7 linked regions of the Homo sapiens genome follow. The protein of the gene in region 2 purifies or fractionates together with the protein of the main gene of each other region. This does not show direct contact. Each region holds a gene or a part of one and is shown on either strand. Other genes may lie near its edges. The genes, in order: CAMSAP3, WAPL, MGA, WDR48, EPB41L4B, DEF6 and GCN1.

The links.
Region 1: the proteins of WAPL (region 2) and CAMSAP3 purify together in Homo sapiens (affinity purification with mass spectrometry, with the first as the bait; one large-scale study listed by BioGRID). This does not show direct contact.
Region 3: the proteins of WAPL (region 2) and MGA purify together in Homo sapiens (affinity purification with mass spectrometry, with the first as the bait; one large-scale study listed by BioGRID). This does not show direct contact.
Region 4: the proteins of WAPL (region 2) and WDR48 purify together in Homo sapiens (affinity purification with mass spectrometry, with the first as the bait; one large-scale study listed by BioGRID). This does not show direct contact.
Region 5: the proteins of WAPL (region 2) and EPB41L4B purify together in Homo sapiens (affinity purification with mass spectrometry; one large-scale study listed by BioGRID and IntAct). This does not show direct contact.
Region 6: the proteins of WAPL (region 2) and DEF6 purify together in Homo sapiens (affinity purification with mass spectrometry, with the first as the bait; one large-scale study listed by BioGRID). This does not show direct contact.
Region 7: the proteins of WAPL (region 2) and GCN1 purify together in Homo sapiens (affinity purification with mass spectrometry, with the first as the bait; one large-scale study listed by BioGRID). This does not show direct contact.

Annotation. Positions count from the first base shown.
Region 1 is NC_000019.10:7,612,863-7,615,833, reverse strand, and holds part of CAMSAP3 (calmodulin-regulated spectrin-associated protein 3), read right to left. Parts: coding exon 2,671-2,971; intron 652-2,670; coding exon 512-651; intron 417-511; coding exon 115-416; intron 1-114. UniProt on the Homo sapiens protein: Key microtubule-organizing protein that specifically binds the minus-end of non-centrosomal microtubules and regulates their dynamics and organization.
Region 2 is NC_000010.11:86,501,293-86,504,792, reverse strand, and holds part of WAPL (wings apart-like protein homolog), read left to right. Parts: intron 1-3,500. UniProt on the Homo sapiens protein: Regulator of sister chromatid cohesion in mitosis which negatively regulates cohesin association with chromatin. Involved in both sister chromatid cohesion during interphase and sister-chromatid resolution during early stages of mitosis.
Region 3 is NC_000015.10:41,761,405-41,764,904, forward strand, and holds part of MGA (MAX gene-associated protein), read left to right. Parts: intron 1-334; coding exon 335-446; intron 447-724; coding exon 725-958; intron 959-3,481; coding exon 3,482-3,500. UniProt on the Homo sapiens protein: Functions as a dual-specificity transcription factor, regulating the expression of both MAX-network and T-box family target genes. Functions as a repressor or an activator.
Region 4 is NC_000003.12:39,083,016-39,086,515, forward strand, and holds part of WDR48 (WD repeat-containing protein 48), read left to right. Parts: intron 1-1,139; coding exon 1,140-1,247; intron 1,248-1,629; coding exon 1,630-1,726; intron 1,727-2,499; coding exon 2,500-2,595; intron 2,596-3,285; exon of another isoform or gene 3,286-3,369; intron 3,370-3,500. UniProt on the Homo sapiens protein: Regulator of deubiquitinating complexes, which acts as a strong activator of USP1, USP12 and USP46. Enhances the USP1-mediated deubiquitination of FANCD2; USP1 being almost inactive by itself.
Region 5 is NC_000009.12:109,255,060-109,258,559, reverse strand, and holds part of EPB41L4B (band 4.1-like protein 4B), read left to right. Parts: intron 1-262; coding exon 263-383; intron 384-2,079; coding exon 2,080-2,167; intron 2,168-2,335; coding exon 2,336-2,424; intron 2,425-2,716; coding exon 2,717-2,786; intron 2,787-2,879; coding exon 2,880-3,049; intron 3,050-3,500. UniProt on the Homo sapiens protein: Up-regulates the activity of the Rho guanine nucleotide exchange factor ARHGEF18. Involved in the regulation of the circumferential actomyosin belt in epithelial cells.
Region 6 is NC_000006.12:35,304,318-35,307,817, forward strand, and holds part of DEF6 (differentially expressed in FDCP 6 homolog), read left to right. Parts: intron 1-3,500.
Region 7 is NC_000012.12:120,156,716-120,160,215, reverse strand, and holds part of GCN1 (stalled ribosome sensor GCN1), read left to right. Parts: coding exon 1-74; intron 75-192; coding exon 193-391; intron 392-1,600; coding exon 1,601-1,756; intron 1,757-2,185; coding exon 2,186-2,367; intron 2,368-3,223; coding exon 3,224-3,304; intron 3,305-3,500. UniProt on the Homo sapiens protein: Ribosome collision sensor that plays a key role in the RNF14-RNF25 translation quality control pathway, a pathway that takes place when a ribosome has stalled during translation, and which promotes ubiquitination and degradation of translation factors on stalled ribosomes.

The sequences.
Region 1 (2,971 bases), on a different chromosome or scaffold from region 2:
CCTCCCGGCACCCCTGCTTACATCTCCCTCCCCCTCCCCCCTTACCCATGGGGGCCTCACCCAGTGAGCCCCGGAAAGGGCACTGGGCAGGCCCCGTCCCCCAAGGGTCCTCACCCAGCAGGCCGCGGGCTGGGCTTCGTGCCAGGGCTGAGTCGTCACAGCAACCCGAGCGAGGCCGGGTGGCCCTCCGCCCGCCCCGACCTGGACCCCCGGACCCCGCAGCCCGGGGCCGCAGCACCTTATCGAGGTCGTCCATCAGCTTCAGCTGGGCCCGGCGCTCGTACTCCTGCCGCGTGAAGTCCCCCTTCCGGGGGCCCACCTCCTCCTCGGCTGGAGCCCGGGCAGCAGGGGCTGGAGTCGCCATCGGGACTGCGGACACAAGCGGGGCTGGGCCCGGGGCCTCCTCTTGGGCCAGCCTGCAGATCACAGGGAATCGGCATCAGAACCGCTCACGGGGTCCGCGGTGGCAGACAGGCCAAGGAGCGGGCGTCCCGGGCAGGCCCGGCCTCACCTCGCGGCCTCCTCCCTCCGCTGTTCCTTCTCCACCTCCTGCCACTGCTTGCGCCGCCGCGCCTCCTCTGCTCGCCGCTGCTGCCGCTCCAGCAGGCTGGCCCGCTTTTGGGCCATCTCGTCCTCAGGCTTGTCTTCATCCTGGGGACAGACGCCGAGTCCAGCCAGCCACCCCCTCCCCCAACATGGCTGGAGGCCCATCTTCCCTCCACCCAGCCTGCCCGCCACCCACCTGTGCTTTTGTTTTCATCATTGTTCTAAATGCACTTAGTTGGTGCCTACTGTATGCACAGCCCCACACTAAGTACTGGGACACAACAGGGATGGGATACACTGGGTGCCGCTCACACACACACTGCTTAACCCAACGGGGAAGACAAAAGCAGCAGACAGCAGTGAGTGCCAGCAAAAGCTCGTGTTGGGCACAGACACTCTACACTGCGGGAGGACCCCGGCCTGGCCTGGAGACACCCAGGAAGGCTTCCCAGAGGAAGTACCCTGTAGAATGATCAGGATTTAACTAGGTGGGCGTACAGAGCAGAGCGTTCCAGGCAGAGGGGACAGCTAGTGCCGAGGCCCTGAGGCTGGAGCAAACCTACTGGGGGGCACGGAAGTACAAGGGGGCCAGTGTGGCTGGGACACAGAGCTGAGGACAGTGGCGCAGGACTAAGTCAGAAGTGAGTACAGGCCAGACGCGGTGGCTCACACCTGTAATCCCAGCAGTTTGGGAGGCCAAGGCAGGTGGATCACTTGAGGTCAGGGGTTCGAGACCAGCCTGGAGAAACCCTGTCTCTACTAAAAATGCAAAAATCAGCTGGGCGTGGTGGCATGCTCTTGTAGTCCCAGCTACTCAGGAGGGTGAGACAAGAGAATCACTTAAACCCAGGAGGTGGAGGTTGCAGTGAACCGAGATCATGCCACTGCACTCCAGCCTGGGCCACAGAGCGAGACTCTGTCTCAAAAAACAAAAAACAAAAGAAAACAAAACAAAAAAAAAAAATGAAAAGGAAGTCCTCCCCAGGGCTTTGGGCTGTGCTCACTTTTTTTTTTTTTTTTTTTTTTTTGAGATGGAGTCTCGCTCTGTTGCCCAGGCTGGAGTGCAGTGGCACGATCTAGGCCCACTGCAAGCTCCACCTCCTGGGTTCACGCCATTCTCCTGCCTCAGCCTCCTGAGTAGCTGGGACTACATGCGCCCGCCACCACGCCAGCTAATTTTTTGTATTTTTAGTAGAGACGGAGTTTCACCATGTTAGCCAGGATGGTCTCGATCTCCTGACCTCATGATCCGCCTGCCTTGGCCTCCCAAAGTGCTGGGATTACAGGCATGAGCCACTGCGCCCGGCCACCCTGGGGAGGACTTTCATTCTAAAAGCAAGGGTAAGGGGAGCAGTCAAAATCCCCGACCACTCAGTGCAAAATGGCCCGGGATGGAGGCAGGCAGCAGAGGCCAGTCAGGTAACCCTAGGTGTCCCCGGCTGGGAAAGCCATGGGAATGGAGAGACAGTGGACACAGGGCAGGGCCAGGAAAGGGGTGGTAGGAGCGTGCTGGGGGCGAGGGGGTGAAGGAGAGGATGAGCAAGGAGGTGCGCTGAAGATCCTGGTCCTGTCCGTCTATCTGTCCATCACCCACCCACCCATGCAACCAGCCATTCATCCATCTGTCTATCCATGACTCCTCCCTGTTTCTCCACCCCTCCCCACATCTATCTATCCCCCTTGTCCGGCCACCCATACCTTGTTTGGGAGGGACATGACTGGGTCAGCCCCCACTGGAAACCCCTCACCCCCAAACATACCCGAGGGCCTCACTCATTAAGCCACAGGGGGAGGACCTCTCACCCCACTGCACCCCCACAGCCCCTTGTGGAAGTCCTTACCCAACAGACAGGGTCAAATCCCATCTGAGGCCCCTGTCACCCCACATACCTGCCCCCCACCGTGCAAATGTCCCTTTCCCCCCTCTCCCACCCATGGAGGCCTTACCCAGCCACTCACACCTGTTCTGTCCATTCATACCTGGCTCCCCATCTATCCCCCACCCGCCCACCCATCCTTCAGTAAAGCCCTATTCATCCAATAGTGGGTTTGTCCACCTCCCCCCGCCCCCACCCGCCCCCGCCCCAGGCCCAGGACCCTCCAGCCACCTGCTCGGGGACTCACCTTGTAGAAGAACCCCAGCCCCACCCGGGGCTCCCCCTCCGAAGACGCCTCCTCCTCCAAGGAATCCTCAGCACCAGCGGGGCTCCCGTCTCCCTCGTCCTCGGCGGCGGGATCTGCCAGGCTGCCCAGCGGGATCTCGATGAGGCCCGGCCGGGCGGCTGGCTCCTCGGGGGGCGTCTCCTCCGCCAGGAGGATGGAAGAGCGCGTCTGCACGGGCACCTGGCTCGGCGAGAACTTGCGCAGGTGGGGGAGGCTGTCTACGTCGTGGGGTGGCGTAAGCACCCTGGTCAAGGGTGCCAGC
Region 2 (3,500 bases):
TGGAGTGCGTGGCTACTCACACAGGTGTGATCATAACAGCAGCCTCAAATGAACCGCTGGCCACAGTGCCCTGGGTAGCTCTAGGTGGGACTATAAGCACGTACTGCTATGTCCCTGTTATTCCTTTTTCTTTTTTTTTTTGAGACTGAGTCTCGCTCTGTCGACGGGGCTCACTGCCACCTCTGCCTCCCAGGTTCAAGCGATTCTTCTGCCTCAGCCTCCCAAGTAGCTTGGACTACAGGTGTGTGCTACTACGCCCGGCTAATTTTTTGTATTTTTTAGTAGAGATGGGGTGTCACCGTGTTAGCTAGTCTGGTCTCGATCTCCTGACCTCGTGATCTGCCCACCTCTGCCTCCCAAAGTGCTGGGATTACAGGCGTGAGCCACCGCACCTGGCCTGATGGTTGCTTTGAGATAAAATAAATTAATAGAAAGTATTTAGAATACTACCAGGCACATACCGAGGGCTTATATAAATATAGTTCAGCTTTGTTTTACTTTGAGTTTTAATTGTGAGTGAAATTGAGTATCCTTCATAAGTTATTTAATTCATTATAGATATATATTTTAATGAATTGCTTCTTTGTGTTCTTGGCTTATTATTTATTCATTTATTTTTGAGGCAGAGTCTTGCTCTGTTGCCCAGGCTGGAGTGCAGTGGTGCTATCTCAGCTCACTACAACCTCTGCCTCCTGGGTTCAAACAATTCTTGTGCCTCAGCCTCCCAAGTAGCGAGGACGACTGGCATGTGCCACCACGCCTGGCTGGGTTTTTTTTGTCTTTTTAGTGGAGACAGGGTTTCACCATGTTGGCCACACTGGTCTCGAACTTCTGGCCTCAAGTGATCTGCCTGACTCGGCCTCCCAAAGAGCCGGCATTATAGGCCTGAGCCATTGTGCCTGGCCCCTAGCGCCATTTTCTACTGGGACATTGGACTTACTGATGTGTAAGGATTCTTGGTATATTAAGGAATTTACCTTTTGTGTTTCCCTAGCAACTAATGATAAGCATTTTTCATGTGTGTATTCTTTTTTTTTTTTGAGATGGAGTCTTGCTCTGTCACCCAGGCCGTGGTGCAGTGGTGTGATCTTGGCTCACTGCAAGCTCCGCCTTCCGGGTTCACGCCATTCTCCTGCCTCAGCCTCCCGGGTAGCTGGAACTACAGATGCCCGCCACCACGCCTGGCTCATTTTTTTGTATTTTTAGTAGAGACGGAGTTTCACTGTGTTAGCCAGGATGGTCTCAATCTCCTGACCTGATGACCCACCCGCTTCGGCCTCCCAAAGTGCTGGGATTACAGGCATGAGCCACCACACCCGGCGAAGTTTGTTTTCTTATCATGACAGCCATTCAGATATTTAAAGGCAGGTTTCATGTAATGGCAGTTTTCTTCCATCCCTGCACCAATTAAACCTTTCTAGTTGCCTCAACTGTATTTCATGGGTTATGGTCTCCAAGCCACTTTGTATCATTTGCACAGATTTCTTACAGGTTAAAGGCATTGTTTAAGTTTAGTCCTCAGCACACCGTGAGATAAACATTTGCTATTTCCACCTCAGCCTCCCAAAGTGCTGGGATTACAGGTGTGAGCCCCCGCGCCCAGCCAGTGAATTAGTTTTGTTGTTGTTGTTCTTTTAAACAGAGTCTCGCTCTTTTGCCCAGGTTGGAGTACAGTGACATGATCTTGGCTCACTGCAACCTCTGCCTCCCGGGTTCAAGCAGTTCTCCTGCCTCAGCCTCCTGAGTAGCTGGGACTACAGGCGCCCGCCACCACGCCTGGCTAATTTTTGTGTTTTTAGTAGAGACAGGGTTTCACCATGTTGGCCAGGCTGGCCTCGAACTCCTGACCTCATGATCCGCCCGCCTTGGCCTCCCAAACTGCTGGGATTACAGGCATGAGCCACCACGCCTGGCCTAGCATTTTAGTGTTTAGCAGCCACCACTAGACGTAGTGTAATATAGTTTGGTATGGGTCTTTTTTATGAAGTCTCTTTTGACTATTGATTTAATTGAGAACCTCTGCAGTCATTAGCCCCTCTGGGCCTTTTTTTCTCATCTGTGTAATGATGGGTTTGGTAAGAAATCAAAGGAAGTATCTTCATTTTCTTATAAGAGGGTAAAGGAAGTCTGTATATATTTGTGTGTATAGACTAGTATACAGTTACACAGATGTATACATTTGTGTGTTTATGTCTACAAAAATAATGTCTATTTGTATCTCCATCTCCATTAAACAGTTCAACTGTTTAATCTTCAACAAACAATTCATTGCCAGTCTTGTTTCATTTTTATCCTCACTAAAGTAAATTCAAGATGTTGTATTTGATTCATAAATATATTTTTTTAACAGATAAGGACTCCAAAAATATACAATTTTGGCATTTTTTATGTTTTGGCTTTTGAATAGACAACTTACATGCAGTATAAAATTCAAGAAGTATGAAAGTCTTTTCTTGTTCCTTATCCCTTAGTCATTCCATCTCTAAGAGCATCCATATCTGTACATAATGTAGAGCTGCCTCATTCTTTTTAACAACTGCATAGTATTCAGGTGTGTTGCTATATGGTAATTTAATTCTTTATTAATTGGTATATTGTTTATGAAAGCAAAAACCAGGAAACAGTGTTCTATTGAGTTTCTTGTTACTTATGTAATTTTGTGTTCGTGGAAAGTTATTTCTAAATACTTGTAAATGAAACTGCTGGCTTCAAGAGTAAGTCCTTTCTTTCACATGTACATTTTTAGTTTTAAAAGATATTACCAAATCTTAACCTGTTAAATTACATTAAAACCCTTTGGAGGCTGGACGTGGTGGCTCATGCCTGTGATTGTAGCACTTTGGGAGGCAGAGGCAGGACGTTTGCTTGAGCCCAGGAGTTCAAGACCAGCCTAGGCACCGTAGTGTGACCCTGTCTGTTAAATAAAAAGGGGAGTTAGGCAGGTGTGGTGGTGCACACCTGTAGTTCCAGCTGTTTGGGAGTGCTGCTCAGGAGGCTGAGGTGGGAGGATCACTTGAGGCCTGGAGGTCTCTGAAGCTGCAGTGAGCTGTGATCACACCACTGTATTCCAGTGTGGGTGACAGTGAGATCCTGTCTTGAGGGCAGGAAAACCTATTGGGTAGAATTAAAAATTATGCAGTGAATCTGTCCATGTAAAGCATCCCTCTCACCTGTATTTGATGATGCTAATTGAGATTTGTAAATAGCTTTTCTTAAATGTAGATGTATTTTGTAGAAGTAATTTTATTGTTTGGCATAGGGTATACATTTTGTCAGTGTTTTTCTACAAGTAAATGTTGAGGGAATTAATAATACCAGTTGGAATCATATTTGTATCTCATTTGGAAAGGTTGTAAAAATGTTCTGATAGTAAAAATTGAAGGCAACAAAAATGAATTCTCCACATACCAGATGAATAGGCAGGCTGAGGATTTATTACTGGCTGATATGCATAAATAGCCACTATTAGCCATTTAACTAACACACCAGAACTACTGCTA
Region 3 (3,500 bases), on a different chromosome or scaffold from region 2:
TTGGTTAGACTAGGAGTTGATCTTAAAGTTGATTATTAAAATCTAAGCAGAGCACAGGTGTTTTGTATCTCCTCGCAGTGGTGGAATACCTACTACCATTCAGTGATGCTCTTTGGAAATAATCATGGTCACATTCCTTAAAAGTGTAAGCCAGAAATCCTCTTACAGTTTAACAAAAAATAATTTCTGAAACATCAACAATTGTTAATGGAATTTAAAAATTCTCTTAAGATGTCAGATTAAGTTTTTTTTCATTAGAGAAATTGTATAGGCCTTAGCTGTGTTTAAAGAAAGAGTGGATCAATTTTCAATAATACCACTATTTGTATTCTAGGCCTTCAGTGAAATTCAGGGACTAACAGATCAGGCAGACAAATTGATAGGACAGAAAAATCTCCTGACTCGAAAACGGAATATTCTGATACGGAAAGTATCGTCTCTTTCAGGTGAGATAAGTAAATAATCTCTGGTAAAGAGCATAATTATAGCTTTATCAAGAAGAAATCCTCAGTAGATCTTTCAGATACTTAATTGAAAGCTTGGCTCCCACAGTTTACAGCACAGTTATCCTTTGACTGGGTGGTGGGTTGTTTCTTGTGAATTGTAATCACCTTACTTTCCATAGTTTTTGGGAATATAGTTAAAGCAACTAGATTTCTGTTGACTCTGTTTCTCATTATGTGGCGTAATGCTGAAAGTGCTAATGTATTCTGTTAACTTACAGGTAAGACAGAAGAAGTGGTCCTGAAGAAGCTAGAGTATATTTATGCAAAACAGCAAGCACTAGAGGCACAAAAAAGAAAAAAGAAGATGGGATCAGATGAGTTTGACATATCTCCCAGAATTAGCAAACAGCAGGAAGGATCTTCTGCATCATCTGTAGATCTTGGACAGATGTTTATAAATAACAGGAGGGGGAAACCTTTGATTCTTTCCAGAAAAAAAGACCAGGCCACAGGTAGGAGGGACATTCTTCGCTTTCCTTAATGTAGATATACATCAGTTGACTTTAGTGGACTGACCACCTTCTCTTGTCCACATTTTTAGTTTTGTGTGGTTTTTTTTTTTTTTTTTTTTTTTTTTTTTTGGAGACAGCTCTGTCGCCCAGGCTGCAGTTGCAGTGATGTGATCTCAGCTCATTGCAACCTCCACCTCCCAGGTTCAAGCGATTATCTGCTTCAGCCTCCTGAGTAGCTGGGACTACAGCGAGCACCACCATGCCCAATTTGTTTTTTTAATTTTTTAGTAGAGATGGGATTTTGCCCTGTTGGCCAGGCTAGTCTCAAACTCTTGACCTCAAGTGATCCACCCGCCTTGGCCTCCCAAAGTGCTGGGATTACAGGTGTGAGCAACCACACCCAGCCCACAGTTTTAGTTTTAATTAAATGAATTAAAGATGGGTTGTATAAAAAGTAGAATATTAACTACATTCGATTTTGGTTTCTGGTTGTAATACACACTCATGCAAATCCTGAGAAGTTACCAGTCCTGGTAGCATATTAGTCTATAGTCATGTATTTTTAATGAGTAGTTTTTTAAACTTATCTTTTCAGACTTATACTTGACTTCGTGATTTCCCTGCAGTTCTACTGATGGGTTTAAGAAGTTGGGTCTAGCTGAGACCAATAAATGGGAAATTTTTTGTAAAATTTAATTTTGTCAAATCAGGCTCTATTTTTCTTTCTTCCTTTTTTTTTTTTTTTTTTTTTTTTTGAGACAGAGTCTTGCTCTGTTGCCCGGGCTGGAGTGCAGTGGCGCGATCTTGGCTCACTGCAAGCTCCACCTCCTGGGTTCATGCCATTCTCCTGCCTCAGCCTCCCCAGTAGCTAGGACTATAGGCGCCTGCCACTACACCCGGCTAATTTTTTTTGTATTTTTAGTAGAGACGGGGTTTCACCGTGTTAGCCAGGATGGTCTCGATCTCCTGACCTCGTGATCCGCCCACCTCGGCCTCCCAAAGTGCTGGGATTACAGGCGTGAGCCACTGCGCCTGGCCATCAGGCTCTATTTTTCATCAGATCACTTACTTATTAATACATTACTATTAAGAAACAGTAGGCCGGATGCGGTGGCTCACGCCTGTAATCCCAGAACTTTGGGAGGCTGAGGCGGGCAGATCACCTGAGGTTGGGAGTTTGAGACTAGCCTGACTAACATGGAGAAACCCTGTCTCTACTAAAAATACAAAATTAGCCAGGTGTGGTGGCTCATGCCTGTAATCTCAGCTATTTAGGAGGCTGAGGCAGGAGAATCACTTTAACCCGGAAGGTGGAAGTTGTGGTGAGCTGAGATCACACCATTGCATTCCAGCCTGGGCAACAAGCACGAAACTCTGTCTGAAACAAAACAAAACAAAACAAAACAAAAACCCCAAAGTAAATTAGTCTTAACTTCTTATTACCATCTTGATTTTGGAAGTAAAGTTATATTGATTTTATGTGTTACTTATATTCTTAGAGAATGGTATATCTGGCTGGGCGCAGTGGCTCATGCCTGTAATCCCACCCCTTAGGGAGGCAGAGGCAGGAGGATTGCTTGCACTCAGGAATTTGAGACCAGCCTTGGGCAACATGGTGAAACCCTGTCTCTACTAAAAATACCAAAATTAGCCGGATGTGGTGGTGCACACCTGTAGTCCCAGCTACTTGGGAGGCTGAGGCAGGAGAATCACTTGAACCCGGGTGGCGGAGGCTGCAGTGAGCTGAAATCACACCACTGTGCTCTAGCCTGTGTGACAGAGTGAGACTCCATCTCAAAAAAAATTAAAAAAAAAAATGGTATATTCTTTTTTACTCTTTAAATGTTTGGATAGCCCAGTGTATGAGCCAAAAAAAATCTGGTGTGGGTATTTTTTTTTTTTTTTTTTTGAGACGGAGTCTCGCTCTGTTGCCCAGGGTAGAGTGCGGTGGCGCAATCTAGGCTCACTGCCAGCTCCGCCTCCCAGGTTCACGCCATTCTTCTGCCTCAGCCTGCCGTGTAGCTGGGACTACAGGCGCCCGCCACCACGCCTGGCTAATTTTTTGTATTTTTAGTAGAGATGGGGTTTCACCGTGTTAGCCAGGATGGTCTTGATCTCCTGACCTCGTGATCCACCTGCCTCGGCTTCCCAAAGTGCTGGGATTACAGGCGTCAGCCACCGCACTTGGCTGTTTTGTTTTGAGAAGGGCCTCACTCTGTAGCTCAGGCTGGAGTGCAGTGTCTCGCTTGCAGCCTTGACCTCCTGGGCTTAAGCAATTCTCCCACCTCAGCCTTCCTAGTAGCTGGGACCACAGGTGCACACCACCACACCCGCCTAATTTAAAAAAATTTTTCTTGTAGAGATGGAGATGGGGTCTCACCATGTTTCCCAGGCTGGTCTTGAACTCCTGGGCTCAAGTGATCTGCCTGCCTCAGCCTCCCAAAGTGCTGGGATTACAGGCATGAGCCACCACACCCAGCTGAATGCCTTTTATCTATAACTAATTTCTGATCTTTCTTACAGAAAATACCTCACCCTTGAA
Region 4 (3,500 bases), on a different chromosome or scaffold from region 2:
CAGTGGCAGCTCCAGAACTAATTGAGTGTTTCAAGAAGAAGCTTGCGGTTAGTGGCATTAACCTGCTGTGAGTTGATTTAAGATGTGACTAACATCATGGATTTAAATAAAGAGGGTGGCCTCTGGGTAGAGTCTTAAGGGCAAAAGCCAGGTAGAGTGAGTTGAGTAGTGATTTGAAGGTGAAGAAACAGAAAATTTGACTGGATAATCTTTGAAGAAATTTGATTGGAGGGGTAGGCAGGAAGCGGCGGAAACTAGAGAAGATGTAGGAGTCAGAGGGCCAAAGGAAGCTTTTGATTTTGTTTGGTTTTGTTTGGATATTTGGGTATTTTTCAGATGTAAGAAATTTGAGCATATTTCATTGCTCCTGGGAAGAAGCCAGTAGAGACATTCATGGGTAGATGACAATACAAGGTCATCCCAAGAAGCAAGAGGTGAGGGGGACCGGAGCACAGTCAGAAGGGACACCGTTTTCCTTGCACCAGGGAGAATGATAGAGAAAGTTAAGGGGATTCTGTCAAGGCTTCTCTTTGTTTTGAGAAAAAGGAATCAGAGTCATGTGCTGAGGATAATGGGGAAGGTGGCAAGGTCAGAGGTAGAAGAGAGATTTAGTTGAGATGGACTGCAAGACAGTGACCCCAGGGCTCAAGTCTCCAGTAAATGAGGGAGAGTGGCAGGTTGCTAGATGGCAGTGAAGGAAAGGTGTACCGTTTACTGTTGCTAAATGACATAGGCCTCAGAGAAATAAGTTTTTACATGGGAGATGGTAGAGTAATGGTCTCCATGGAGCATCAAGGAACAATGGGATGTGGGAAAATAAGCAGTCCCCCTTTGAGAAGATGGCCGACAACTGGGACCCTCGAAAGAGCCACGTTGCTGTTAAGATGAGGTGGTATATTATATCAATATCAGCACAATTAAATACAGTTTCTTCCCAAATACTATTTTGTGCTTTTTTAATTTAAATTTTTTATAGCAGCAGATTGTTATTTTAAAAAAGGACCACATTCTTTTTGAAATGTATTTTAGACTGTTTCACTTAGACACATGTGAAAATATGTAAAATTTTGAATAGCAAAGTCAGAATCAAGTGAATTCACCACTTAATATTGATCATTATACTTTCTTTTGATGTATAGGCATGTAAAGTTGAAGATCTGGGCAAAGTGGATTTTGAAGATGAAATTAAGAAAAGATTTAAAATGGTGTATGTGCCAAATTGGTTCTCAGTAGACTTAAAAACAGGGGTAAGTTAGCAATTGATACTTGTATGATTTGGGATAATTGAAGATTTTCATTATAGCTTATAATTATTATTAGTTACAGAGTCCTGTGTTTTTAGGTGTGAAAAAAAAAATTTGTGTTAAAACTTAAAATGCAAAATGGAATAAAAAAGAAAAAAACAAAATTAAAAATATATTAAAAAAGAAAAAAATTTAAAAGTTACAAAATGCCTTTGGTATCCCAGGAAACTAAATTGTGTTGTTGCATTGAATCACACAAAACACATTTTGGTTCCTGAATTTATGACTTAGCACTTTAGTCAAATAGTACAAATAAATGAAGGTTTAGAGACTTGTTTGGAGAATATATTCAAATGGGATGCCACTAAGTTTTTTCTTTTGATAGATGTTAACTATTACTTTGGATGAAAGTGATTGTTTTGCTGCCTGGGTTTCTGCAAAAGATGCTGGTTTCAGCAGCCCTGATGGGTCAGATCCAAAATGTGAGTTTAAGTGTCCTTCATTTTTTTCCTCCCTTCTAAAGAGAAGATGAATATGAGCTGTTTTTTGCTAAGTACTTATCTTTGTAAAAGTTCTCTATATTTTGTTGACTATGTCCTAAAAATGTGGTATGTACAAATACCTAATGTATACAAATCATTTTAGTAATTTCATATGGAAATAGCCGTTTAAAGAATCTGATTCTCGGCCAGGCGCAGTGGCTCACACCTGTAATCTCAGCACTTTGGGAGGCCGAGGCGGGTGGATCACGAGGTCAGGGGATCGAGACCATCCTGGCTAACACGGTGAAACCCCGTCTCTACTAAAAATACAAAAAATTAGCCGGGCGTGGTGGCGGGTGCCTGTAGTCCCAGCTATTCGGGAGGCTGAGGCAGGAGAATGGCGTGAACCCGGGAGGCGGAGCTTGCAGTGAGCCGAGATTGCACCACTGCGCTCCAGCCTGGGTGACAGAGCGAGACTCTATCTCAAAAAAAAAAAAAATCTGATTCTCATGTTTGTTTTTAAATAATAGCTGTATCTGAACAACCAAGTAGAATATGTCTTTGCTCCATAGCATCATTGCTTTAAACATTCTAAGATAAAATTTTAGCAGAATTGGCAAAATGACTAAAGTCTTTATTTTAGACATCATTCGCATTGGGTTAAGAATGTAACATCAGAATATGTACAAACTTACAATTTTTATTCTATTTTTAGGTTAAAGCCAAGTAACTCGCTTTTCCATTTTATCTCTTTTTAATTAACTTTTTTGCAGTGAATTTAGGAGGACTTTTACTCCAAGCACTCCTGGAATATTGGCCTAGAACACATGTGAATCCAATGGATGAAGAGGAAAATGAAGTAAACCATGGTTAGTTTTTATATTCAGATAGTTGCATAAAAAGTTAGAGGTACTTACTTAAAAGGTACTTACTAAAAGGTACTTACTTAAACCGTTAGCTAAAATATTTGTGGTGTACTCAGTTTATTGTCCTCTCTTCCATATCTCAAAGTAGGAACATCCATCCAGTCTTAACTGAGACTGAGATTCCAAAAGAGCAGACCACCTTATGATATGGCTTTTAGTGAGACTGCTCAAGATAAATAAAATACTCTATATTCAGATGACTTTTGTCTTAAAATGAGGCACCTTAACAGACTTATTTCCAAAATATTCTTCAAGGTACCTCTGATCTTTTGGATTAACCTCCAAAGCTAGGTAGTTAGCTGCATCAGAAAGCCAGGTTTGTCATTGCATAGTCACTCTTCATGTTGGGCTGAAATGTTGGTATTTCCTAGTCTCATGGCCTACCTGATTTTGACTCTGTTTCAAAAAAAAATTCAAATTCCAACTCAGAAGTGACAGGGCATATGCTCAAGCATGTGTAAAGAATTAATGTCACTGAGGACATCTGAAACGTGTGTGTGCCATAGGCAGTGGCAGTAACGTTCCCTGAGCAGCAGAGGAGAACATGTTTTGAATATATGCATTTGGCTCAGTTTGATCAAAGGAAGGGGAAACAAGAACTTAGAATTTCACATCCTCATGTGTAACCTACAGCTGGTTGAGGAATCATTGAGTCCCATCGACTGAGGCTTACTCTGCTGAAGATTCTCTGCTGGCCACCAGGAGTGAGCAACAATGGCGAGTACCTCCTGCCAGGGACTTTGTTCTGGCTGTCAGATTCACCCATAATGATATGTGGAATTTAAATCTCTCACATGAGGATGACATGCTTCCTTGAAAACCAGTCTTCTGATGTTCCTGTCAGAGAG
Region 5 (3,500 bases), on a different chromosome or scaffold from region 2:
TGGGAACAACAGTGGAGAGAAAGACAGTAATAACTAGGATGATGCTGTATCACCCAACAGGGAGGACATTAGAATGCTTCTAGGATTTTGAGTGTACATATGACTACCCAAGTGAGAGTTAAGTCTTCCCGAAAGGAGAGAGTTATACATTGGGGCGGGGGGCTGTGCTTTATAATGATGCAAAATGCCTTTGGACCTGGTTGCAGCAATAACTGAAATCATTCAATGTCTCCTATTTTCCTCCCTTTTATGAAACTTACAGCGGAGCTTGGGGAGTGCGAGCTTCCAGAACACACACCAGAGCTTGTGTCTGAGTTTCGGTTCATTCCAAATCAGACAGAAGCAATGGAATTTGATATCTTCCAGAGATGGAAAGAGTGCAGGTACCTTGATGCAACCGTCTAGCATTCTGATGTATCTATTTTGTCATAAATAAGTGTTGATCACACTCCTTTATCTACCAGTAGAATTGTTCTGTTGATGGCCATAAAACTGCAGCGCCAACTCTTCTCTCCTTGTGTCAGTCCTGTTTTTCCAAAGGCCCACATCTTGTCCTTTTTATTTTTGAGAGAGTCTCGCTCTGTTGCCCAGGCCAGAGTGCAGTGGCACTATGTTGGCTCACTGAATCCTCGACCTCCCAATGCTCAAGCAATCCTCCTGCCTCAGCCTCCCGAGCAGCTGGGATTATAGGCGTATACCACCATGCCTGGCTCATTTTTCTATTTTTTGCAGAGATGAGGTTTCACCACGTTGCCTAGGCTGGTCTCAAACTCCTGAGCTCAAGTGATTGTCCCACCTCAGCCTCCCAAAGTGTTGGGATTACAGGCAGGAGCCACCACACCTGGCCGTCTGTCTCTTAAGAGATGTGCAGCAAGAACCAAACCACACTCCTTTTCTCTCTCTGCAAACAGAGCCTGGTTCTGATTTGTTTATTGCGGATGGGGGAGCCACCACTGTCTTAGTGACACCCCAGGGCATCCCAGGCACTCTCACATACCTGCATCTCTGGGACCTCAGGGCCTGAACCTTCTGAAACAAGCCCTAAATTTAGAAATATACCCTGTTGTATAGGAACATACATATTTGAGACCGTGTGCTGTACAGTGTTACATTTCAGGAAGTGTGATCATCATACCTAAATCCAGCAGTGTCATTTATCCCCTTTGTTTTTTCCCTCCATTCCCCCTGCAGGCACCACTTTCATGCCTGGACTACCAACGCCACCCCTCACTCACGGGTTTCCTAGATGTTAACCTTTCCTCCCTCCCATCCCATCTTCCCCAAACACTGCCTCCTCCAGGTCACCCTTGGACTCTGGAGCTTAGCATGACTTTCTCTTATCCCTCAGTCATTCTGAAAAGCTCCTGTGACTATTTTAGTGGAAGGTGGCATTAGTCCATTCTCATTGTGTAACACTGAAACAACGTAAATGTCTGCGGGTATGGCACACCCCACCCACACACTTACACATCCACTCTCCTCCCTGCAGGAAGCCATCATTGGCAGCCTGTAGTCTTTTCCTTTTGCATTTACATATACAACTTGTTTTGTTGTTTCCTTAAGTGATCATATTGTAAGCACTGTTCTGTGATTTTGTTGTTGTTGTTGTTGAGATGGAGTTTCAGTCTTGTTGCCCAGGCTGGAGTGCAATGGCACGATCTTGGATCTTGGCTCACTGCAACCTCCGCCTCCCAGGTTTAAGTGATTCTCCTTCCTCAGCCTCCCAAGTAGCTGGGATTACAGGCATGTGCCACCACGCCCAGCGAATTCTGTATTTTTAGCAGAGATGGGGTTTCACCATGTTAGTCAGGCTGGTCTCGAACTCCTGACCTCAAGTGATCCACCAACCTTGGCCTCCCAAAGTGCTGGGATAACAGGCGTGAGTCACTGCGCCCAGCCTGTTCTGTGGTCTTTCTAGTCAATTAACAGTAAGGTCTTGGGAATCTTTTTGTATTACTATAATTTGGCATCCCTCATTGCTTTAATTGCTGCATAACGTTCCATAGTAAGGCCGTGCCCTTCAGAATCCTGTGGGCTTACGAGTCGCAGTTTACATGTATTTCCATTGGTTTTTCTAAGGGGAAAGAGCCCTGCCCAGGCGGAACTCTCCTATCTGAATAAAGCGAAGTGGCTGGAAATGTATGGGGTAGACATGCACGTTGTCAGGGTAAGAACTGTGTGCGTTTAAGTAATTTGGTTTTGCTGTTACTGAAAAATGTATGAACATTATGCAAACAAAATAACTTGTGGTGAGGAAACTGTTTTTGCATTTTGCATTCTGCTGTGTGACGACCTGTTAGAACCCTCTACCGATTGTCACTTCGTTTGTTTGTAGGGAAGAGATGGCTGTGAATATTCTCTTGGACTGACCCCGACAGGCATATTAATCTTTGAAGGAGCTAACAAAATAGGCTTATTCTTTTGGTAATTTAGTTTTGTCTAATATTAAAAATGTCTTTTCCTATTTTGTGGTGGAATTCTATGTGATGGATGATTATTGAGGGGTATCTGCAACACCCAGATTCATCCTCAGAGCACACGGTGCTGCTGTTGTGGGTCTGTGGCAGTTGCGCTGAAACTTCTGGATAATCACACTTGGATGAATGTTTTTATTTTTTTTTTAGTCTAAGCTTTAAAAGTAGAAAGGAAACTGCTATTTGATGTGTAGATAGTTTTACTGCAGATTGTGCTTTTAAAATGCTTTCTGTCTGACTAGGCCTAAAATTACCAAAATGGATTTTAAAAAGAGCAAATTGACACTCGTGGTGGTCGAGGATGATGATCAGGTAGGCCTGGCTCCCATTTCTTCCCCCTTGCTGTGAAAATCCTGTGTTGGGGTTGCAAACGCCCACTCGAGGCCCTTGTGCTTCCTCTTTAAGGGACGTGAGCAAGAGCACACGTTTGTGTTCCGGTTAGACAGTGCCAGGACCTGCAAACACCTTTGGAAGTGTGCAGTTGAGCACCACGCATTCTTCCGACTGCGGACGCCAGGAAACAGCAAATCCAATAGATCCGACTTTATCAGGCTGGGCTCTCGCTTCAGATTCAGGTAGGGAGCCATTTCTGCAACACGGATCACGTCTTCTGAAGGAGGGCAACTGTGATTTCTTTCTTGTATGCGAATAGAGTAGTGGATTTGAGTCCAGAAACTTAGGTTGTGTGTCCCATCCCCACGTTTCTTAAGGTGAGTAACTGAAGCTCTTTTGACCCCCACCTGGTCATTGATAAAATGGAACTAATAACAAAATTGTTAATAACTGACATTTAGTCAGAGCTGTGCTGTTCAATACAGTAGGCACTAGCCACACGTGGCAATTTAAGTTAATGAATATGAAATAAATTTTACAATGTAATTCTTCAGTATCGCTAGTCATATTTCAAGCGGCCAAGAAGCCACATGTGGCTAGTGGCTACCATATTAGACAATATAGACACAGGACACAGGATCATTTTGGAAAGTTCTGTTGGCCAGCACTGTGCCAGAACTGTTCACACACCCT
Region 6 (3,500 bases), on a different chromosome or scaffold from region 2:
CTCAAAAGATAAGGTGATCAGAGGATATTCCACCTGGTCAGGGAATATATATTCCCTGAGAAGGTGTCATCTAAGTAAAAACAGGGAGGAGGAAAGGGTTTGAGCCATGCAGTGACCTGGAGAGAAATATTCCAGGCTGCAGGAACAGTAAGTGCAAAGGCCCTTGGGCAAGAATATGCCTGACCTGCTGGAGGAACATTAAGAAGGCAGAATGGCTGGAGGCAAGTAAACAAGAGGGATGAGGTCAGAGAAGGTGCAGCAGGCCAGGTCACATGGGGCCTGGAGGCCTGTGGAAGGACTCGAACTTTTACTCTGAAAATTATGGGAAACCATTGGAGCATTTGAGTTAGACTTTAGGAGTCAGTCAGAAACATTCAGTGAATGGGGGACATTATACTATCTTTGGAGTCAAGGTTGAGATTAGAGTCATTGCTGCCCTCAAGGAATGTAGAACACCCAGAAATGCTCACACAAACAGTGAACAGCAAAAGAATATTATTATAGAGCAACTTAATAGGGCAAATTAATAACTGGGTTAATGGCACCCTTTTTCATCCCTATTGTTTTAAATTTTATCCTAAAGACAATATATTCTCCTGGTTTAAAAAAAGAAAACACACAGAAGAATATAATGTTAATGAAGAAATTCGGGGCTGCGCTGTGGTAGCTCATACTTGTAATCCCAACACTTTAGGAGGCCGAGGCAGGAGGATCTCTTGAGCCCAGGAGGGCTCTTCCTGCCTCGGCCTCCTAAAGCATTGGGATTACAGGTATGAGCCACCATGGCCTGGGCAATATAATGGGAACTCATCTCTATGAAAAAAAAGAATTTTTTTTTTTTTTTTCCAGACAGGGTCTGGATCTGTCACTCAGGCTGGAGTTCAGTGGCACGATCTCAGCTCACTGCAGCCTTGACTTCCTGGGCTCAAGCAATTCTCCCACCTCAGCCTCCTGAGTAGCTGGGACTACAGGAGTGTGCCGCCACACCCGGCTAATTTTGGTATTACAAAAAAATTTTTTAACTTAGCTGAGCATGGTGACACATGCCTGTAGTCCCAATTACTCGGGAGGTTGAAGTGGGAGGATCGCTTGAGCCTGGGAGGCGGAAGCTGCAGTGAGCAGAAATCGTGACACTGCACCCCAGCTTAGGCAACAGAGTGAGACCCCGTCTCTAAATAAATAAACAAAAATAAAAATGAATTTATTATAAAATTAAAACATGTTAGTGGTAATTTTTTTTTTGTGGGGGTGTGTGTGTGTATGTGTGTGTGTGACAGAGTCTCACTCTGCCACCCAGGCTGGAGTGCAGTGGCACTATCCTTCCTGGCTCACCTCAACCGCCACCTCCCAGGTTCAAGCAATTCTCCTGCCTCAGCCTCCCTGTAACTGGGATTACAGCCGCCTGCCATCACACCCAGCTAATTTTTGTATTTTTAGTAGAGATGAGGTTTCGCCATGCTGGCCAGGCTGGTGTTGAACTCCTGACCTCAAGTGATCCGCCCACCTGGGCCTCCCAAAGTGCTGGGATTACAGGTGTGAACCACTGCGCCTGGCCAAATTTGTTTTTTTGTTTTTGTTTTTGTTTTAATTTTTAGATGGAGTTTCACTCTTGTTGCCCAGGCTGGGGTGCAATGGCACAATCTCGGCTCACTGCAACCTCTGCCTCCTGGGTTCAACTGATTCTCCTGCCTCAGCCTCCCAAGTAGCTGGGATTATAGGCGCCTGCCACAATGCCTGGCTAATTTTTAGTATTTTTAGTAGAGACAGGGTTTCAACATGTTGGTCAGGTGGGTCTCGAACTCCTGACCTCAGGTGATCCACCTGCCTCGGCCTCCCAAAGTGCTGGGATTACAGGCGTGAGCCCCTGCACCCGGCCCAAAAAAATTTTGAAGTAAAGAAGAATATAATGTTGGCCGGGCGCGGTGGCTCATGCCTGTAACCCCAGCACTTTGGGAGGCCGAGGCGGGCGGAACACCTGAGGTCAGGAGTTTGAGACCAGCCTGGTCAACATGGCAAAACCCCGTCTCTACTAAAAATACAAAAATTAGCCAGGCATGGTGGCGGGCGCCTGTAATCTCAGCTCTTCGGGAAGCCGAGGAAGGAGAAGCACCTGAACCCGAGAGGCAGAGGTTGCGGTGAGCCGAGATCACGCCATTGCACTCCAGCCTGGGCAACAAGAGTGAAATTCTGTCTTAAAAAAAAAAAAAAGATGAAAGTTTCTCCCCTCACTCTGGAGAGGTGATCACTGTTAACAGTTTGTGAGTCTTCTAGATTCTTTCTGTATACAAATAAACAGGTTGAACCATATGAAATTTCTGACACTTGATTGTTTTGACCTACTGAAATACTAGTTTCATATAATTCGACCTAATCTTTGCACATGTATTTGACAAACATTTCATTCTGTAGCTTGCTTTTTTTACATGCCAGTGTAGTATGCATATCTTTCAATGTCTGTTCATATAAACATAACAAAGATCACCCACAACTTTTATTAAGCAGTGCACTATGCACCAGGTACTCTTCACTCAAAACAGCCTTTGGAGCAGACCCTATCATTATCCTCACAGAGGAGGAGACTAAGGTGTTGGAGAATTAAACATTTGCCCATGAGCACACAAGTGGGAAAAGTGAAATCTTTCCAGCTACATACAGTGGTTCCTGACATGGTATACCTGTTTCCTACTGGAAGAGCCTCAGTTTGTCTCCATTTTTTCATATTATAAACAATGCTTAATGAGCATTCTTGTATCTCTCCCATGAGTGTCTGTAGGTTGGATGATTAGAAATGCTGGGGTGGCCGGGCGCAGTGGCTCACGCCCTGTAATCCCAGCATTTTGGGAGGCCGAGGCGGGCAGATCTCCTGAGGTCAGGAGTTTGAGACCAGCCTGGCCAACATAGCGAAATTCCATCTCTACTAAAAATACAAAAATTAGCCGAGCATAGTGGCACGCGTCAGCAATCCCAGCTACTCAGGAGGCTGAGGCAGGAGAATCACGTGAACCTGGGAGGCGGAGGTTGCAGTGAGCCAACACCGCGCCACTGCGCTCTAGCCTGGGCGGCAGATTTGGAACGCGTCTCAAAAAAAGATAAGGACACGGGTAGTTTGAAAAGAGGCCAAGAGACAGCAGATGAGAATATATAAAACTTGAACACTTGTCACTTCAGAAGTGGTCAGTGGATGTTGGCATTATTCTCTTGAGGTGGTCACCCTGGGTTTTAAGTGCTAGGCATTGAGCCAGTGGCACCCCTTAGAGTGGGGATTGGTATTCTATGACCACAGATGTGTTAGGCAAGACTTTCCTGGAATTAGTGATAAAACCAAACTCAAATGGCTTAAGGGAGAGGGGATTTATTGGCTCACATAACCAAAAACTCCAGGGATAACTGCCCAGAGGGAAATGAGGGAAAAAAAGGAAATACTCCCTTCCTGGGATCTCCCACTTCCCAGTTTGCCAAGGAAAACTGAGCCCCAGGAGGACACTGAGGCAAAGTCTCAA
Region 7 (3,500 bases), on a different chromosome or scaffold from region 2:
TGACCAGCAAGCAGAAGGAGATGCTGCAGGCCCAGCTAGACAGGGAGGCGCAGGTCCGGAGGCGGCTGCAGGAGGTGAGTGGCCACCTCCGCCACATGCTCAAGCCGGAAGAGTGCTGGGCAGCTTGGTCCTGCTGCTTGCTGTCACAAGCAGGGCCCTGCTGACCTGCCTTCTGGACAACTCTGCTTGCAGCTGGATGGGGAGCTGGAGGCGGCGCTTGGACTGCTGGACATCATCCTGGCCAAGAACCCGTCCGGCCTGACCCAGTACATCCCTGTTTTGGTCGACTCTTTTCTGCCCTTGCTGAAGTCTCCCCTGGCTGCTCCCAGGATCAAGAACCCCTTCTTGTCCTTGGCTGCCTGTGTCATGCCCTCTAGGCTCAAGGCTTTGGGTTAGTCCTTGTTTGCTGGCTGCAGGGATGGCCCAGGGGTGCCCCTGAGTGCTTGGACAGGGTGTGCCCCTGAGTGCTTGTGGGGAGGTGGGTGGTGACCTCAGCTGCTGAGTTTTGTTTTCTTGTGGAAGCAGCCTTGGAGACTCAAGCTGGATATGCTTAGGAGAGACGTAGTGCCTCCTCTTCTCTCCCACTTCACATCTGTGCCCTCCCTCTGAGGAGTAGGTTTTAGATGCTAGTCAGTGTTCGATCTTTGTATACCAGTTTTAAAACTAAGAAGTCAGAAGTTCAGTGGCAGTGAGGATGGTTTGGTGGCTCAGCCCAGCCCAGATCTCCTGAACAGCCACATGACAGCAGTGAGCAGAGGCCCTTGAGACCTTTAGCTTCCTCTTAGCTCTGGAGAAACAAACACCAGGTAGGGTGGCTGGCAGTTCTGGTGGCCTTGCTTCTGTGGGTTGTTTAGTGGCCTTCAGCAGACTTCTATCCTGGCCTAACGGTGATGTTCCCACGGGTGAGGCTAGAATCTGGGAACTGTTCTGAGTGGAAAAGTCAGCTGGTGCATATGAAACCTGCCAGAAGTGTCACCTGGCTGTCTGGGCTTGTTGCGTAGAGGTGGAGATGCTGCACAGATAGAGCTGTACTCTTGGCTGAATGACTCTTTGGTGGCCCTTGTCTCCTGTCAGCGTACTCATTTCTTAAATGTCCAAAGGGCAACTCTCTGCCTACCTGCCCTCTGAGGCTGTCACAAAGATCAAGTGAGAAATTAGGCTGGGGACATTTTGGCGAAGCAGAAAGATTTTTTTTTTTTTTTTTGAGACGGAGTCTTACTCTGTCACCCAGGCTGGAGTGCAGTGGCGCCATCTTGGCTCACTGCCAGCTCCGCTTCCCGGGTTCATGCCATTCTCCTTCTTGAGCCTCCTGAGTAGCTGGGACTACAGGCGCCCGTCACCACGCCCAGCTAATTTTTTGTATTTTTAGTAGAGATGGGGTTTCACCGTGTTAGCCAGGATGGTCTCAATCTCCTGACCTCATGATCCGCCCGCCTCGGCCTCCCAAAGTGCTGGGATTACAGGCATCAGCCACCGCGCCCAGCCGCAGAAATATTTTTTTAAGTCAGAAGGATGAGGCACTGGGTCCCCTGTTTTAGCCTGGGCTGGATTCCACATCTCTGTGTGTCATCTCCTGCTGGGTCTCTCCTCTTCAACACAGGCACTTTGGTGAGCCACGTGACCCTGCGCCTGCTGAAGCCAGAGTGTGTCCTGGATAAGTCCTGGTGCCAGGAAGAGCTGTCGGTGGCTGTGAAGAGGGCGGTGATGCTGCTGCACACCCACACCATCACCAGCAGGGTGGGCAAGGGGGAGCCAGGTAAGGGCTGGGACGGGATCAGGGGCACCAGGCGGTGTGAGCTGGTGCCAGGAATGCTGCTCAAGGCACAGCGTCACCCAGGGCCTCCTGAGCCTGGGGGATTGGACCATATGGAGGATTTCTGAATTGAACCTTCGTAGTCTGTGAATTGCAGTGAGCCCAGTTGAGGGTTTACTTTTTGTCACTGGTGTCCCCATCTCTGTTTTAACTCTCACATCCTGGAACTGGGCAGTGTTTGGCAGTAGAAGCAGAATTGGTTTTAGAACTGGACTACCAGCTGCTGTCTCTGTCCTCGTGCCATGTGCTTCCAGGTGTCAGAACGGGCCTCTGGTCCATCCGTTCCCTACTTTCCCTGAGGATAGAAATAGGCAGCAGTGGCCCGGGTCCCTGCCCTGCCTGCAGAATCTTATCTGCTTCTCGCTCTCACAGGTGCTGCGCCCTTGTCCGCGCCAGCCTTCTCCTTAGTCTTCCCGTTTCTGAAGATGGTGCTGACGGAGATGCCCCACCACAGTGAGGAGGAGGAGGAGTGGATGGCCCAGATTCTTCAGATCCTCACTGTCCAAGCCCAGCTGAGGGCCTCCCCCAACACCCCACCCGGGCGGGTGGACGAGGTTGGCAGGGAAGCTCTGCTCTCCTCTTGGTTTAAAGGGGATCAGGGAGGCAGGGCCTGTGGACACGTTTTGTCTCATGAACAGTTCCTGGTGGGGAAATAGAGAGTGTATGTTTATACCAACAGCAGCCTCACACAGTGTTGTGGGTTTTTTAAGGCAAAAACGGGTCAGACTGCTTCTTTCATGTGATTGTAGACTCTGGCTCTCCTGCCATGCCAGTACATGTCAGTTCACCTGATTGACTTTGTTGGCTGCATGAGATTCTGTGCTATGGATGTACCATGTTTTACTTAACTCTTTACCTGTTGATGAGTTCTTAAGGTTGTTTCTAACTTTTTCCTGTTTTGAACAGCACTGTGATGTGCCCTCTTGTATGTATATGCCCCTTACTTAACCAGTGTGAGCATTTCTTTAGGACAGGTTCATTGGACATGGAATTACTAGATTATATGGCATATTCTGAGCTATACTCTCACCAAGAGTTTTCTTTTCTCAAAGCCTTAATGCAACCTCAGATAGTATTAATATCGTCAGTGATGAGTGAAAGAATGATAATCTCATTTTATTTTGCATTTCATTTAAAGTTGAGTGTCTCTTCATATATTTACGGTCTTTCTGGATTTCATAGTGTGAATTTCAAGCAAGTTTCAGAATTTAGTTTTTAGTTCCTGAGGATCATGGTTGACTGGGGTTAGCACCTGTGGACCTAGTTGTAAACTTAATGAGGTTTCTGTGGTGGGGCCGGTTGTATGATCCAGAATGTTCCCCCGTGGGTGAGAGGATGCCCTGCCGTTGGCCGCCTGGGTTACAGACCTCCCCACAGCCTCATCTCGACTTACCTGCCGTTCTCTCCTAGAATGGCCCGGAGTTGCTGCCTCGCGTGGCCATGCTGCGTCTTCTGACTTGGGTGATCGGGACGGGCTCGCCTCGCTTACAGGTGATGTGGTTTTCAGTTGGCTGTTGCTGTGACTCAGTTCGTGACCCAGACCTCAAGTCCCAGTGTAAAGGGTGGAGTCCTAGTTTCCTTTCAGCCCTTACTTTTGGACTTTGGTAGAAAGACTGCTTTAGAGAGCCAGCCTGACTGTTGTTAGCTAGTGAGGGGTTTTGCTTGGGTCCTGCCACTGGAGCTGGGG